Linked DNA regions of Homo sapiens. The protein of the gene in region 3 interacts with the protein of the main gene of each other region in a biochemical or structural test. Each region holds a gene or a part of one and is shown on either strand. Other genes may lie near its edges. The genes, in order: VPS41, RNF115 and RAB7A.

The links.
Region 1: the proteins of RAB7A (region 3) and VPS41 form a complex in vitro, tested with the Homo sapiens proteins (one study listed by BioGRID).
Region 2: the proteins of RAB7A (region 3) and RNF115 form a complex in vitro, tested with the Homo sapiens proteins (one study listed by BioGRID).

What each region holds. Positions count from the first base shown.
Region 1 is NC_000007.14:38,724,192-38,727,841, reverse strand, and holds part of VPS41 (vacuolar protein sorting-associated protein 41 homolog), read left to right. Parts: intron 1-853; coding exon 854-933; intron 934-1,515; coding exon 1,516-1,596; 3' UTR 1,597-3,650. UniProt on the Homo sapiens protein: Plays a role in vesicle-mediated protein trafficking to lysosomal compartments including the endocytic membrane transport and autophagic pathways. Acts as a component of the HOPS endosomal tethering complex.
Region 2 is NC_000001.11:145,764,947-145,768,596, reverse strand, and holds part of RNF115 (E3 ubiquitin-protein ligase RNF115), read left to right. Parts: intron 1-3,650. UniProt on the Homo sapiens protein: E3 ubiquitin-protein ligase that catalyzes the 'Lys-48'- and/or 'Lys-63'-linked polyubiquitination of various substrates and thereby plays a role in a number of signaling pathways including autophagy, innate immunity, cell proliferation and cell death.
Region 3 is NC_000003.12:128,729,053-128,732,702, reverse strand, and holds part of RAB7A (ras-related protein Rab-7a), read right to left. Parts: intron 1-3,650.

The DNA.
Region 1 (3,650 bases), on a different chromosome or scaffold from region 3:
AAAGCGGAAACTAACAAAGCATTGTTAGGATGCTAACAAATGCTTTTCAAATATAAGTTCAGCATAACAAAGTACTAAAAGACCTAGTTGACCTCATGTTTACTTAGGATTAAAGGATTATTTCATGGGGCAGTCCATGAGAAGTTGTTCTACTTAGGTTCTTTTCTAGAGGAATTAGATTTGGATGTTTAAGTGCTTCTGTTGAAAACTGCATGGGCTCAGGTGAAGAAGTGAGCTTCCATAGCATTTCAGACAGTGTTGCAGCAAAAAGGAACCACATACATTCCCACTCTACAGTTAGATTTAACTCCAAATTTACTCTGCTGATGACACTAAATCTTACCAAAAATAAGCTGGCCACACAGAGCAGGAACAGATGAGGGGATCTGCCCAAGCACAAGTGCAGTAAAATGCAAGGTCACCACAGCCTGGGCTTGTAACCCAGGTCCGCCTCTGAGTCAGTGTGTGGTCTTGGCAAAGGTAGCAGGTGGACTGGCAAAGCATTTTTATGAAGCCACAGACTCAACTTCAGCTGTGGTGTATAATGATTATAGGGGTTAGGGGCGCATTGGCACATACACTTGCTGGTTTTCCTACAGTTGTCCTCAATGTAGTCTGGGTAAGTGACACAGAGGCTAAGCAAGTAACCTGTGAATCGCATAGCAACATGATTATAATACCTGTTTTGTGTCTGATCATACCACCCCTCAGGAATGCTTTTGTAAATAAGCCATTCTCTAAAGGCACCTTATTGCTGAAAATTAAACTGCAACTCGACTTTCAGTCGGGATTGGTTTAAAATGATCTTGCTTGTTGCATTAAGTTCTCCTCCTTTCTCTGCCCTCCTCGCCAGATGCAGCTAAGCCCTTCAGCGTGGTGGTCTTCCATTGCCGGCACATGTTCCACAAGGAGTGCCTGCCCATGCCCAGCATGGTGAGTTGGCAGCTTGGCACCTATCAACTAGAGGGAAATTAACACACTTAGAGGAATGTGCTTTAAACTGTAACCCTTCATCCTTATGGCTGTATGGGTTAAAAAAAAATTACAATGTGGATTTATATCACATAACAAAAATTAATCTAGTTTTCAAATGTAAAAATATTTAGAAATGTTCTATGTACTATAGTAAACATAAAAGCATACCCATTTGAAGGAATTCATTCAGGCCCAGTTGACAGCTGTCATGCTGTAGAGATGAGCAACAACAGTAGAGAGCCATTGTGTATCTTATGTGTTTCTCAGCCTGATTTGTGTTCCATGATGCTATCATTTTTTTAGTGTCATATTCCTCCAGGTCACATTAGACGTATTCTGCTGTTGGGTGTCCTTGGAGTCACAGAGTAACAGCTGATCTAGACTAAATCCTATGTTAACCAGAAATAAACTCCAGAGAAAGGAGTGCCATCCTATTACTTCCTCTCCACCCCCTGACTAACGCTACCTTAGTGTTTCTGAATATGAGAGTAGAAAAAGAAGATCATTTTTTAAATATGTGTTTTTAAATTGCATTTTTAGAACTCTGCTGCACAGTTCTGCAACATCTGCAGTGCTAAGAACCGTGGACCAGGAAGTGCAATTTTGGAGATGAAAAAATAGCTCATTTCTCCTTGTCAGTCTCCTTGTCACCACTCTTTTTGAGACTGTTTTTGCAACAACAAAAGCATTTGTTGACACTCGTGCTGTTAAGAGATTTGTTTATGTTTATATTATACTCAAAAACAATTTCTTCATCTATTCCTGTACTAATGGTTTCTCTTTGCAGTTCACAGAGAATTTGGGGCTCTCTTCATGCCTTGAAATTTTGGGGTCCATAGTGAATATTTTGTTATTTATTTGTTTGGCTCATTCTTTATATAGTAATGGAAACATAAGTCTAGGAGTTAGAAATGAATTTTTTAGACCTTAGTAAAACCATTTAACCATAAAATGGACAACTGAGAATTCTCCCAGCTGCCTGAAAGCGTCGCCAACTGTGGTTATCCTGCAAGCTGCTACCTGCAACTTGGACGTTGTTTCCACGTGCTCTGCTGGCTACGATTCTTGCATTCTGGGTTTGGCTTTTTTCTGTGTCATCAACTATGGTTATCCTCTAAATAGGCATTTAATGAAACATTGTACAAATTGTCACTCATTTGATGACACCTGGGAATAACATTAGCAGGCTGATGTCCTGCACCATTATGTTTACTAATCACATGTTCTGTGTGCTGTGACGACTGTCAAAGAGTATCTGGCCATGGCGGACACTCAGCATTTGTTGATTGAATAAATGTTAGCTCTTCTCATTGTGAAGGACTCACTTTTACTGGGATAAACAAATGCAGTTAAGAATTCTGGCACCCTTGTAAGGAAGAAAAGAGAGTTCAACACCTTCGAGTCTGAGCGCTTGTGGCTAGAGTTTGCCAGGAGGGAGGAAACCAGTGACCCTGAAAACTGAGGGTGCCTCAGGAGCAGTGGGACCACCTGATGCTGAAGGACGGACTAATGATGTTTCCTCTTGCCTTCTCTGGTGCCTCCATTGCCCTCATGGAACAGAGCATATCATAGAGGGAGAAAAGTCAAACTTGTAATTGTGTCTTACAGTTACTGGCTTCATCTTCCTTGGGATATATGGTCATCCTCTAATGAGTGTAAAAGTGCGCAAAACACATCCTTATTGTTCCTGATCTCTTAGTCCCATAAATGGGAACAAATACAGCTTTCTGCTTCTTTCTTTTTGGGGAAAGGACAGGGTGCTAGTGAGTACTGACAGCATGCCAGCTACCGAAGTCACCCAGCCATTCCCATGAGCAGCAGTTCATTTAATTGTCACAGCGTCGCCAGGAAGAAGATCTGATAAACCTAGGTTTACAGATAAAGAAAGCAAAATGTAGAGATGTTGTTGAGGTCACAGAGGTGACTGCCTAACTTCAGAGCAGGGCTTCTGATCCCTTTAAGAAATTACAGGGCCAGCCGGGCATGGTGGCTCACGCCCGTAATCCCAGGGCTTTGGGAGGCCTTGGCAGGTGGATCACCTGAGATCGCACGTTCGAGACCAGCCTGACCAACATGGAGAAACCCCATCTCTACTAAAAACACAAATTAGCCAGGCGTGGTGGTACATGCCTGTAATCCCAGCTACTCAGGAGGCTGAGGCAGGAGAATCACTTGACCCCAGGAGACGTAGGTTGTGGTGAGCTGAGATCGCGCCATTGCACTCCAGCCTGGGCAACAAGAGCAAAACTCCGTCTCAAAAAAGAAAAGAAAAGAAAAGAAATCATAGGGCCAAGTTCAAAGGAAATGCACAGAACATATCTTCACATTAGAGTTAAGAATTCTCTAGCAAACAACAGATTTTTTTGTTGTTGTTAGTCACAAATACTTAGAACTGGAAGGCTCTTTGTTATTATTGAATGTACCCCTCAGCCTTCTCAGCATTTCCTTATCCCAAGACTAGTGTGCTTTCTGCTACACTGCTAGTTTTCAGTTTTGTTCTTACCCAATTGTTTTTTCTTTTCAACATTACCAATTTACAGATTCAGTTTATTACATTTACATTAATCCTCACTTATGATTTGAGCAAGCTCATTTCCAGAAAAGTTTACTTTAAGATCATCAATAGGATTTGCTAATTTCAGTGAAGTCATTTTGCTTCAGGGGTAAATTATCCT
Region 2 (3,650 bases), on a different chromosome or scaffold from region 3:
CACACCTGTAATCAGCACTTTGGGAGGCCGAGGCAGGTGGATCACTTGAGGTCAGGAGTTCCAGATCAGCCTGGCCAACATGATGAAATCCCATCTCTACTAAAAATCCAAAAATTAACCAGGCATGGTGGCGGTTGCCTGTTATCGCAGCTACTCAGGAAGCTGAGGCAGGAGAATCACTTGAACCTGGGAGGTGGAGGTTGCAGTGAGCCGAGATTGCGCCACTGTACTCCAGCCTGGGCGACAGAGCAAGACCTCATTTCAAGAAAAAGAGTACTTTGGCTGGCGCCAACAGGGTCCAGGTCTGTGCCTGCCATTGGAGAGGATGCCACAGCCACAGGGGTGGGCGCTGGCCTGGAGGCCTCCAAGGGGCATCTCCTGTGAGCCCAGGGGATGGGCAGGATCTGAGCGGAGAAGAGTGAAAGTGGAGGAGTGAGGCCAGAACAAAGGCTTTGCCGTGAAAGAGGTGGTTTCCCGCCTAGGCTCTGACCTTCACTCACTGTGTGGCCCAGGCCAAGGGCAAGCGTCTGACCTCGCTGGGCCTTTGTTTCTCAGGGGTAAGATGAAACAATGGCTCCCTCTCCCTCTCCCTCTCCCTCTCCCCACGGTCTCCCTCTCCCTCTCTTGCCATGGTCTCTCTCTGTCTCTGATGCCGAGCCGAAGCTGGACTGTGCTGCTGCCATCTCGGCTCACTGCAACCTCCCTGCCTGATTCTCCTGCCTCAGCCTGCCGAGTGCCTGCGATTGCGGGCGCGCGCCGCCACGCCTGACTGGTTTTCGTATTTTTATGGTGGAGACGGGGTTTCGCTGTGTTGGCCGGGCTGGTCTCCAGCTGCTAACCGCGAGTGATCCGCCAGCCTCGGCCTCCCGAGGTGCCGGGATGGCAGACGGAGTTGCGTTCACTCAGTGCTCAATGGTGCCCAGGCTGGAGTGCAGTGGCGTGATCTCGGCTCGCTACAACCTCCACCTCCCAGCTGCCTGCCTTGGCCCCCCAAAGTGCCGAGATTGCAGCCTCTGCCCGGCCACCACCCCTTCTGGGAAGTGAGGAGCGTCTCTGCCTGGCCGCCCATCGTCTGGGATGTGAGGAGCCTCTCTGCCTGGCTGCCCAGTCTGGAAAGTGAGGAGCGTCTCTGCCCGGCCGCCATCCCATCTAGGAAGTGAGGAGCGTCTCTGCCCGGCCGCCCATCATCTGAGATGTGGGGAGCGCCTCTGCCCTGCCACCCCGTCTGGGATGTGAGGAGCGTCTCTGCCCGGCCGCCCCGTCTGAGAAGTGAGGAGACCCTCTGCCTGGCAACTGCCCTGTCTGAGAAGTGAGAAGCTCCTCCGCCGGGCAGCCACACCGTCTGAGAAGTGAGGAGCCCCTCCGCCCGGCAGCCACCCCGTCTGGGAAGTGAGGAGCGTCTCCGCCCGGCAGCCACCCCGTCCGGGAGGTGAGGAGCCCCTCCGCCCGGCAGCCGCCCCGTCTGAGAAGTGAGGAGCCCCTCTGCCGGGCCAGCCGCCCCGTCCGGGAAGGAGGTGGGGGGGTCAGCCCCCTGCCCTGCCAGCCGCCCCGTCCGGGAGGTGAGGGGCGCCTCTGCCCGGCCACCCCTACTGGGAAGTGAGGAGCCCCTCTGCCCGGCCAGCCACCCCGACCGGGAGGGAGGTGGGGGGGTCAGGTCAGCCCCCCGCCCGGCCAGCCGCCCCGTCCGGGAGGTGAGGGGCGCCTCTGCCTGGCCGCCCCTACTGGGAAGTGAGGAGCCCCTCTGCCCGGACAGCCGCCCCGTCCGGGAGGGAGGTGGGGGGGTCAGCCCCCCCCCCCCCCCCCCCCCGGCCAGCCGCCCTGTCCGGGAGGTGAGGGGCGCCTCTGCCCGGCCGCCCCTACTGGGAAGTGAGGAGCCCCTCTGCCCGGACAGCCGCCCCGTCCGGGAGGGAGGTGGGGGGGTCAGCCCCCCGCCCGGCCAGCCGCCCCATCCGGGAGGGAGGTGGGGGGGTCAGCCCCCCGCCCGGCCAGCCGCCCCGTCCGGGAGGTGAGGGGCGCCTCTGCCCGGCCGCCCCTACTGGGAAGTGAGGAGCCCCTCTGCCCGGCCACCACCCCGTCTGGGAGGTGTACTCAACAGCTCATTGGGAACAGGCCATGATGACAATGGCGGTTTTGTGGAATAGAAAGCGGGGAAAGGTGAGGAAAAGATTGAGAAATCAGATGGTTGCCGTGTCTGTGTAGAAAGAGGTAGACATGGGAGACTTTTCATTTTGTTCTGTACTAAGAAAAATTCTTCTGCCTTAGGATCCTGTTGATCTGTGACCTTACCCCCAACCCTGTGCTCTCTGAAACATGTGCTGTGTCCACTCAGGGTTAAATGGATTAAGGGCGGTGCAAGATGTGCTTTGTTAAACAGATGCTTGAAGGCAGCATGCTTGTTAAGAGTCATCGCCACTCCCTAATTTCAAGTACCCAGGGACACAAACACTGCGGAAGGCCGCAGGGTCCTCTGCCTAGGAAAACCAGAGACCTTTGTTCACTTATCTGCTGACCTTCCCTCCACTATTGTCCTATGACCCTGCCAAATCTCCCTCTGCGAGAAACACCCAAGAATGATCAATTAAAAAAAAAAAAAAGAAAAAGAGTACTTTGTATTTGTATTTAAGAAATCAGATGTCAGAGATTAGCCTTTGTGGGATTATTAGTGTGTTCCTCACACCAACTTAATAAGTTTCCCTGAAATGAGGTCCATTTTCTTTGACTTTTTCATTGGCATGAGTAAAACTTTTTTACTAACACAGAGACAGGGAACTCTCACATTGTTCATTCATTCTGCAAATATTTATTCAGTGTCCCTAAAGTATGTGCTTTATCCTCTAATCTGCAGCTTTTGAATGATAGTTAATTAGGTCTTGAATAGACTAGCTCATCTTATCTGACTTTAAGTGCATCTGACCTGTGCCAGCAGATTAATTTATAAATTTATAACTGAGGGTATTCTGTTTCAGTGACTATAAAACTCATTTGTTTGTTAGCATACTCTTGTCTTTGAATTTCTCAAGTATCAAGAAATCAAAAGCAATCAGATGGTTGTTTAGTACATATAGAATCAGCAAGGAAATTGCATGATCTTTAAGAGAAATTCCATCCAGATTGTGATAAATGCTAAGGAATTACTCATATTTCACTTCAAATAATTTTTTTTTAATTTTTTTTTTTTTTATTGATCATTCTTGGGTGTTTCTCGCAGAGGGGGATTTGGCAGGGTCATAGGACAATAGTGGAGGGAAGGTCAGCAGATAAGCAAGTGAACAAAGGTCTCTGGTTTTCCTAGGCAGAGGGCCCTGCGGCCTTCCACAGTGTTTGTGTCCCTGGGTACTTGAGATTAGGGAGTGGTGATGACTCTTAACAAGCATGCTGCCTTCAAGCATCTGTTTAACAAAGCACATCTTGCACCGCCCTTAATCCATTTAACCCTGAGTGGACACAGCACATGTTTCAGAGAGCACAGGGTTGGGGGTAAGGTCATAGATCAACAGCATCCCAAGGCAGAAGAATTTTTCTTAGTACAGAACAAAATGAAGTCTCCCATGTCTACTTCTTTCTACACAGACACAACAACAATCCGATTTCTCTATCCCTTCCCCACCTTTCCCCCTTCTCTGTTCCACAAAACCGCCATCGTCATCATG
Region 3 (3,650 bases):
GTGTACCACCACACCCACCTAATTTTTTCTTTTCTTTGTAGAGATGGAGTCTTACTTTGTTGCTGAAGGTGGTCTTGAACTCCTGGGCTCAAGCAATCCTCCTGCCTTACCCTCCCAAAGTGCTGGGATTACTCCTCCCAAAGTACTGACCACCATGCCTGGCCAAGAGTTCAATCTCATTAAAGGAAGGTATGAAAGTATACATTCAAAGGAAGAAAATAACCAGTTAACACTTTGGTCTTCCTCGGGGTAGTGAATCACAAATTTTCCTTCTTTATATTTCTGAATTTTCCTAGCTTTTTTTTTTTAACTGAATAGTTTAATAATCAGCAAAAAAGACGTATCATTTTAAATAAAAGGTAGTGGGCCAGGCGTGGTGGTTCACGCCTGTAATCCCAGCACCTTGGGAGGCCAAGGCGGGCGGATCACAGGGTCAAGGGATTGAGACCATCCTGGCCAACATGGTGAAACCCCATCTATACTAAAAATACAAAAATTAGCTGGGCATGGTGACGTGCACCTGTAGCCCCAGCTACTCAGGAGGCTGAGGCAGGAGAATTGCTTGAACCCGAGAGGCGGAGGTTGCAGTGAGCCGAGATCATGCTACTGCACTCCAGCCTGGCGACAGAGCTTGACTCTGTCTCAGAGAGAGAAAAAAAAAAAAGGTAGTGGAAGAAAGAGACACTTTTTTTTTTTTTTGAGATGGAATCTTGCTCTGTCGCCAGGCTGGAGTGCAATGGCACGATCCCGGCTCACTGCAAGCTCCGCCTCCCCAGTTCAAGCGATTCTACTACCTCAGCCTCCTGAATAGCTGGGACTACAGTGCATGCCACTATGCCCAGCTAATTTTTATATTTTTAGTATAGACGGGGTTTCACCACGTTGGCCAGGATGGTCTCTATCTCTTGACCCTGTGATCCACCCTCCTCGGCCTCCCAAAGTGCTGGGATTACAGGTGTGAGCCATCGCCCCCGGCCGAAAGATACACTTTTACAAGGGGTGAAATGTCGTGGTCTTTAGGGCACTAGCATATAATGGAAAGGCAGGATGGTACATCAGAAAGAGCACTGAACTGAGTTAGCAGACCTAGACTGACATTCCAGCTGAGCCACCTGAGCATACAGCCTCAGCTATTTCAGGCAGATACACACAACAGTTGTGAGCACCAAATGAAATCACATGTAAACTACAAATACCACAGAAACATTAAAAAGCATTTAAAGGCAAATGTGTAGGAAGGTTTCTACAAAATGTTATCGCTTTTTTAACAACCATTAACATGGTGCAGGTCAGAGGATTTAAGAGTGGGTTTTAAATGACCCGCAGTTATCTCAGGGATCCTCATATCTGTAAGTGAACAGAAGAACTGTTGGTAGGCTGACTGAATACCACATATAAGGGACACTATTTTTCATAAAGTCTATGCTTGGTTATTTAAGGTTAATTCATAGCAGCTTTGTAATTATGCACTCTCAAATAACTCAAACTACAAAGCTTATTCAATGGAAACCAACTTTTTATTACACTTACATACCAATATTGGAAATCAATGATGTAACTATTTACTTCACTAAGTAACTTTTAAAGGACTCCTGATCTGAGATGGTTAATGCCCAGCAGTATGAAGCAAAGCTGGAAAGGAAAGGCTGAGGGAGAAGAGAGAACTTCCTTTCCTTTATCTGGCAGCAGCCACACAAGAAGGACCAACTAAGAGACAAGCAAGGCTGGAGAATTCCTAAACTGCCCTTGTCCCAGGCTCCCCTTAAATAGGCTCCCTTGGATTTGCTTGGTCCCAACTGTAGACAGTCCCAGGACACCAGAAGTGGACAACAGAATCAGGCAAACTTAAATTTCTCAGCAGTGATGCCATCACCAAAACAGAGACTCCAGGCCCCATGAGTTAAGTACTGCATCTTCAAGCAAATGAACAAGGCCAATGCTGTAGGTCAGCATTGGAACCAACTCCCAAGCTTTCTTCCTCCCACAAGGAGATATTTTGCAAGTAGCTATTCTTAAATATGTTTTTGTAATCACAGCCTGGGATACTAAAATTGAAACTGGTAACAGACACTGCTAAAAAACTTGTTTTGATTTCACTCGCCACATCACTTTTACCTCTGATTCACAAATCGCAGTGACCACCACCATTAAGAAATGTTTTAAAAATAAGTTTTAGGCTGGGCATGGTGGCTCACGCCTGTAATTCCAGCACTTTGGGAGGCCGAGGCGGGTGGATCACGAGGTCAGGAGATCAAGACCAATCTGGCTAACACGGTGAAACCCCGTCTCTACTAAAAATACAAAAATTAGCCGGGCGTGGTGGTGGGTGCCTGTAGTCCCAGCTACTCGGGAGGCTGAGGCAGGAGAATGGCATGAATCTGGAAGGTGGAGCTTGCAGTGAGCTGAGATGGCACCACTGCACTCCAGCCTGGGCTACAAAGCAAGATTCCGTCTAAAAAAAAAAAAAAAGTTTTAAAACACAAACTATTTTTCTGTCTTTAATGCCATATGGAGTGTGGGGAAAAACAGAATAGAAGATTTAAGAGCAAATAACTGAAAAGATCAGCATATTGCAAAAATGTTTCTGCAGCAAACTGCAGACAGAGAAGCATAGAGAACTATTAGATAATATTAACAGATAAGCATGTGGTAACACAAAGGAATGGATGCCTGAGAATACAATGGTAGCCTTCCTTACATGAGAGGTAAGAATCATCAACAGCAAGCCAATAGCCAAAAAATAAGGGGGGAGGCGGGGAGTTCATTTCTCGAGTTTCAGTCGCCTTCAGAAGAAGACATTTAATGCCAAGGGGAACCTCTGTTTAGCCTTATTCAGGAGGACTTCTAATCCTTACCTCCCCAGGAAAAGCCTGCCTACAGCTCCAAGTCCAACATCTGGTCAAATCTATCTCAGCTGTATTTGTTGAATTAAATGAATGGGGAGATAAATACTTTATCATAGGAAAAACTAAAATATTTGTGTCAAATGCCAGAGAGGAATGTGCATAAGACAACTGTCATATTTGCGTGGTCTGTGTTTGCTACATCTTTGTTTACAAAGTCTAATGCCAAAGTAAGAGCAAAAACGTTATTAGTGAAGATCCCTTTGAAGACTTTTTTTTTTTTTTTTTTTGAGAAGAAGTCTCGCTCTGTCGCCCAGGCTGGAGTGCAGCGGCATGATCTCTGCTCACTGCAAGCCCTGCCTCCTGGGTTCACGCCATTCTCCTGCCTCAGCCTCACGAGTAGCTGGGACTACAGGCGCCCGCCACCACGCCCGGCTAATTTTTTGTATTTTTAGTAGAGATGGGGTTTCACTGTGTTAGCCAGGATGGTCTCGATCTCCTGACCTCATGATCCACCTGCCTCGGCCTCCCAAAGTGCTGGGATTACAGGCGTGAGCCACCGTGCCCAGCTGAAGACATATTAAAAGCTAATCAAATAACCAAAATTTTTTGGCTTCACTTGGCAGTGGGGTCAGAAAACTGATTCAAAGCCACACTTTACTATAAAGAGTTGTTCTCTGATTACAGGGTTGGTGAGCTTAGACACAGTTGGCACTAAAAAAAAATTTTAAAAAAAATTGCCCCAAGTGGTTGCTAACTACCTAGAAGGATATACTAATAAAACTATTTTTAGACTATCTTCTACAT